Regions from separate parts of the Homo sapiens genome. Here region 2 is linked to region 1. The links come from fine-mapping of genetic effects on gene expression. Tissue or cell type: whole blood. Region 1 holds a variant in brackets; the other region holds the start of a gene. All regions are shown on one strand. Distances are between the middles of the regions.

The links. PIP is the estimated chance that this variant, and not a neighbour inherited with it, causes the effect.
Region 2: STN1 starts here. The variant in region 1 is fine-mapped to the expression of STN1 in whole blood (TOPMed, PIP above 0.99).

The regions. Positions count from the first base shown.
Region 1 is chr10:103,884,420-103,886,919 of GRCh38, reverse strand. All of the region lies in intron 9 of STN1 (STN1 subunit of CST complex), which reads left to right. Among named protein-coding and RNA genes, the nearest start is that of SH3PXD2A, 30 kb to the right of the region's middle. The variant T/C (reference allele first, on the strand shown) is at 953.
Region 2 is chr10:103,916,952-103,919,895 of GRCh38, reverse strand. It overlaps STN1 (STN1 subunit of CST complex), which reads left to right and starts at 1,712. Exons shown (of 10, transcript NM_024928.5): 1 at 1,712-1,796; 2 at 2,240-2,434. The coding sequence starts at 2,302. RefSeq lists a silencer at 1,401-1,750 and enhancers at 1,491-1,785, 1,416-2,061, 1,921-2,250.

The DNA.
Region 1 (2,500 bases):
ATTGTGAGGAGCTGTGCTCTGGAGCCACCTTGCCTAGGTTTGAATCCCGGCTTTGCCACTTGCTAGCTGTGTAATGTTGGGCAAGTGCCTTGGGTTCTTTAAATGCAAAGTGGGGATAATAATAGTACCTACAAGATGGGTTTTTATAAGAAGTAAATGAATTGGCATTTAGAAAGTTAGAAGAGTACTCAGTGCATAATTATGATCCAAAAAGTATTAAATAAAAATGAAGTTCTCTTTCCTAATGGCACAAGTGGTAACCCCTAATTCTCTAGCCTGCAGGCCTGAAGGCTCACCCTCTACTTGGTTTAATATTGATCTGGAAGGAGGCAGTTTCAGATAGAATCTGTATGTGGATTTTGCTGTATTATTGTTGGAGTAAAGTTGACAAAATCTGGATTTTGGCTTTCAGTATGGGTACAACAATGGCAAATTATCCAAAAGAGCTCTATGTTGAACATGTCTTTTTATCTCTAACTTTTTACTCTGAAAATATTCCAATTTATCAAAAAAAAAAAAATTAAAAGACTGGTACAATAAACACCGATATACCCTTCACCTAGATTGACTAAAAACTTCAGTTTGTATTTGCTAAGCATGCAGAAATTCTCCTATTTGATCACCAAATCATTTCACACCGAAGAAAATTAACATTTGATGAGTTCCAAAATGGCAGCCTTTCACTAAATGTTACTTTATACCATTAGCTTTTCAAAAATCTCCCATGTATTTAGCTCAGGTTCATTTTTTACTATCCCAGAGCTGGAGAGAACTGCTGCTTTTGGTAGAAACTGAGTACCATATAACACTACTTATACTGGAGGATTTTTTTTTTAAACTTAAGACAAACTTTTAAAAAAGACTTAAAGAAGTTTAACCTTTTGTAGTTATAGTAGTAGGTTATATCTGAAATGTATCTTTATGTCATTTGGGTCTCTAGAACATTAGCCTT[T/C]GTGGTTTCTGGTGGAGGTATGATGGGGTATAGTATGAATCAGGCTACATGTGAAAGTTCTTGGGAAAATATAAGGCGCAGTTATCACCGCTCATAGTGATCCGTCATAAGATAACTATGTCTGCCAGGCAAACACTTTTCAGAAAAGTCTGCTTCGGCTTGTGGGTTTGTTCCAGAAGAGTCGAATTATGTAATTGTACTAACCCCTGGGGAGCTCCTTGCTGGCCTTTCCTACTTTTACTGTTTTATAATAATTTCTCACTTAGAGAAGAATCTAAGGCCAGGCACAGTGGCTCACTCCCATAATCCCAATGCTTGGGAGGATTGCTTAGGCCAGGAGTTCGAGACCAGCCTGGGCAACATAGCAAGACCCTGTCTCTACAAAAAATAAAAATTAAAAATAGAGAGGAGTCTAAGTTCACATTACCGAAGTGACTGGAGATCACTTTTGAACAGCCTCACCAGATAACCCTCAGCAGAACAGCCTTTCTGACTAAATAGTTGAAGGCCTCTGAGACAGTCAGCATCACTGCTTTGGGCCCCATGGATGCCTGTAAGTCACCTTGAGCCCTGGGTCCAAGCATCCAGGCCTTGCAGAAACTAAAAGCTGAGCAGCACTAAATTCCCTCTGCTCCTCCCTACCGTGTGCAGGTCTGTGTGGTTGGAGCCCCTCACCCTCCATCATCAAACCTATCCTTGCTTGCTGGTCAGCTCTTCCTCCTTGAGAGGCTTTTCTTCTTGGGAAGGGATGAAGCTTTTCTAGAGCAGGAACTAAGTTACATTCATCTTCTTGGATTACGGATATGATGAACCAAATCATAGTAGTTCCCCCTGGTCTCTCATCCACACAGCCACCCTGAGAAGGAAGTGGTTTTGTTCCCGGGAGTGACTTTGTCCCAGTTGTAGAGCCAGGGCTTGAATTCTGGTGTGGTGGACTCCAGTGGCAGCTCCAGGTCTGCCAAGCTCTACTTGCTCCTCCTTGCTCAGCAATGCACACATAGTAGGTGTTCAGGAAGTCTATGGAGTGAATGTTGAAGAAACAGCCTGGAAGTATAGATGCCAGCAATCCCAGTTGGAAGGAGTAATGAGTGGACACAGCCACTAGAGGTCAGAATTTAGCAAATTTTTGTTAGCCCAGGAGCAGTCTCTGAACCTTAGGGTTGGAAAGGGCCTTGGAAGTGGTTTTCACCACAGCTGAGAACACTCAGGCCTAGGGATGGCTTGCCCAAAGCTACAGAAGTGCACCAAACCTTGAACCGTGCTTTGCCTCACACCGCAATACCTCTTCGAGCACCTTCCTGAAGCCTAAAGCATTTTTCATCTGTAAACAACTTTCAGTGACTTTGTGGAGCACCTTTTGTGTGCCAGATACTGGGTATACGGCAGAGAGAGACCATGCCTGCGCCTGCCATGGAGTTTTAAACTGTGACAACTGGAGAGGGTTTGCTTTTGGTAAAGAAGTTTGACTTTGACTCAAAGTTAGAAATACATTTTACATCATGACCCAATAAATTATATAATTCTAATGCATAAGATGTATATGAAATT
Region 2 (2,944 bases), 33 kb before region 1:
TGACACTTAGTAGTGATTTCCTCCTTTGGGTTTCACCCTGGAGCAGATGTGTACAGTCAGGAAAATGTCACTCAACCTGTCTCTCCCCATCTGACAGGTCAGCAGGAAGCACCTGTCCTACTGGGTGTGTTTTCTTTGCAAGGGCCTTCCTCCTATAAGAGAAGGTATCTTCTCTCTCTCTCTTTTTTTTTTTTTTTTTTTAATTGAGGCAGAGTCTCACACTGTCACCCAGGCTGGAGTGCAATGGCCCGATCTCAGCTCACTGCAACCGCTGTCTCCCAGGTTCATGCGATTCTCCTGCCTCAGCCTCCCGAGTAGCTGGGATTACAGGCGCACGCCACCACATTTGGCTATTTTTGTATTTTTAGTAGAGAGGGGGTTGGTTTCCGTATATTGGCCTGCCTGGTCTTGAACTCCTGACCTCGTGATCTGCCCGCCTCGGCCTCACAAAATGTTGGGATTACAGGTGTGAGCCACCGCGCCCAGCCAGTGTCTTCTCTTAATTAAATCTTAAACCCTACATTTCCTAGTGTTCATTGCAGTAGAATCTGGGCAATGTATTTTACCAAGGACTCTTGTTTTTGAGCTTCTTAAATGGCCGGGGAGGTAATTAAATGCCATGGGTCTAATGACACACACACTTTCCATTCCAGCGGCTCCAAGTTCCTTCTCTGATAAATAGTTTAGCAATTATCTCTTTGGCCACCACCTGCCTCCCCCGGGAATGGTCTGCCAGGGTGATCTGTACTCCCCTGCCATTTTCCAGAGTCTCTGTAAATTAGGAAGAATTCCTGACGTCTCGGGTAACGTAGCTCTTTATGGGAGTGGAACGTGGCTATCTTTCCTCACTTTAAAATAGAAATTCTGGAGACTAAGCACCATCAAGGTGGCCATGATTTACCAAAATGCCAGCTTTTCAAAGTTCTTAAGTGTACAACCTTCCAGACTGTAGACCGAACAAGGGTAAAGGAGACAAAATGTATTGTCATGATTTTGCACGGCTAGTCTCTGGCAGAGTCAAGACCTCACATTCACTCGAGGGCTCAAATTTAGATATTGACATCTCCAAGTGAAACTAGAGTCCTAAGTGTGTGAGTCAGGTCACTTACCAACTGTAAATGAACATTTAAAATATGCCACAATGCACTCGTGGCACTGCTTACTTTTTATCTGTTTTACATATCAGGAATCAAAAAGAAAAATAGTCTGATCCTGACCCAACCTCTAGGAGGCCCAGGTTCAGGGTCCCGCCACCAGCAGGAGGAGGGGTGAAAGGTGACTAGAAGAGCGGCGTTAGAACTGCAGGAATTTCAAGGTCGCCTCCTAGGCCTCAGCGGTGGAGGCTAGCACGAAGGCGGGGCTGCAGCGCTGCCTGAACCAAAAGTACGCTGCGCTGAGGCGGGGCACGGAACGGGCTGGACTTCGGCTGGATGGGGCCTAGCGGATGGTTGGGCCGCGGCGGGATGGGGCGGGGCTTCGGGCGGGATGGGGCGGGGCTTCGGGCAGGATGGGGCGTGGCCGCGGCGGGATGGGTGGGGTCTGGGTGGGATGAGGCGGGACTTCGGGAGAGATGGGGCGGAGCCGTGGCGAGGCGCTGCAGCAGAAAGGAAATGCGCTGGCGGGGAGACCGGGGTTGGTCCCTGGCGGGGCAGGGGGCGGGCTCAGGCCGGAACTCCAGAGACGACCTCAGCCAACTGCTCCTGCGCCGGGCGGGGTCGTCGCCGCCAGCGGCTCCGAGCGCCGGAAGGGCCAGGTCTCAGGGCTCCTGGAGCTGCAGGCGGCGGGAGGGGCTACAAGTGGGTCCATTTTTTAGTATCTTTTTTCCTCCTTTTCTTGGCTCATCCCCAAAAGCGGAAAGTTTAGGGCAGAGCGACAGTCAGACCCATCCACTATGCCCCAACACGTGCAGGGCTGCGAGGGCGCCCGTTCCTCCCGGGACCCCAAGCGGTTTCTGCTACGCCTGTACAGACGTATCTTCCCAGAGTGAAAGTTGATGTTTAGCCGTTCCGAAGTTGGTGCTTTGTGGGAAGGAGAACAGCGGGAGAGCCGTAAGGAACGCAGGCGTCCTGACGTGAGGAACGCCTCTTAACACGCCCCGTGGCATGGAGTTTGACAGGGCCCTGGATCCCTGCGTTCACCCCTCCTGGAGTCCTGGACGCCCACCTGGGAGCAGCGTCAGGGCCGTGCCACTTTGACCCACGTTAAACGCATTGCATCCTCATTTCTGTGTCCCATCTAGATGCTTGACTCAGTGATGCAGAACCTTTCAGAGTTAGCTGGAAGCCACAGCCCTGCCTCTTGATGCAGCCTGGATCCAGCCGGTGTGAAGAGGAGACCCCTTCCCTCTTGTGGGGTTTGGATCCTGTGTTTCTAGCCTTTGCAAAACTCTACATCAGGGATATCCTGGACATGAAGGAGTCCCGCCAGGTGCCAGGTATGTGGCTAGCCACCCTGGGATGCCCTGGGCTGCATCTGCCACCCTTTCCCAAAGTCTCAGAAAGCTGGGATTAGAGGCTTTTAGGAGAGCCTTCCCTGCTGCAGGCTTTGAAAGGGACCTAGCCTGGACCTTCGCATGAGTTCATTTATTTGCAAGGTAAAAAAAACAGTCTAAATCTTTTTTTTTTTTTTTTTTTTTTTAGTAGGTGTTTGGGGGAGTAACTTTTGTACTGGGGTTTTTACCTCCATTTAGGGTCTTTCATGCTTAAAAATGCTCATTTGTTTTTCTTTGGCCCTGCTCCTGTTGGAGAGATCGCTGGGCCAGATATTCCTAGGCCTGGCTCCTTTCCTAAATGTGCCACTTACCTGGTCCGGGCATGTGACTCACCTTCTGCAAAGTCTGGGTTTCTTTGTAAAAATGGAGCTTAACCCTGTGTAATGGAATCTTTTGATTCCTGATATGTAAAGGGGGTTTGTTTTCTTTTGAATTAAGCAGAATCAAAATATT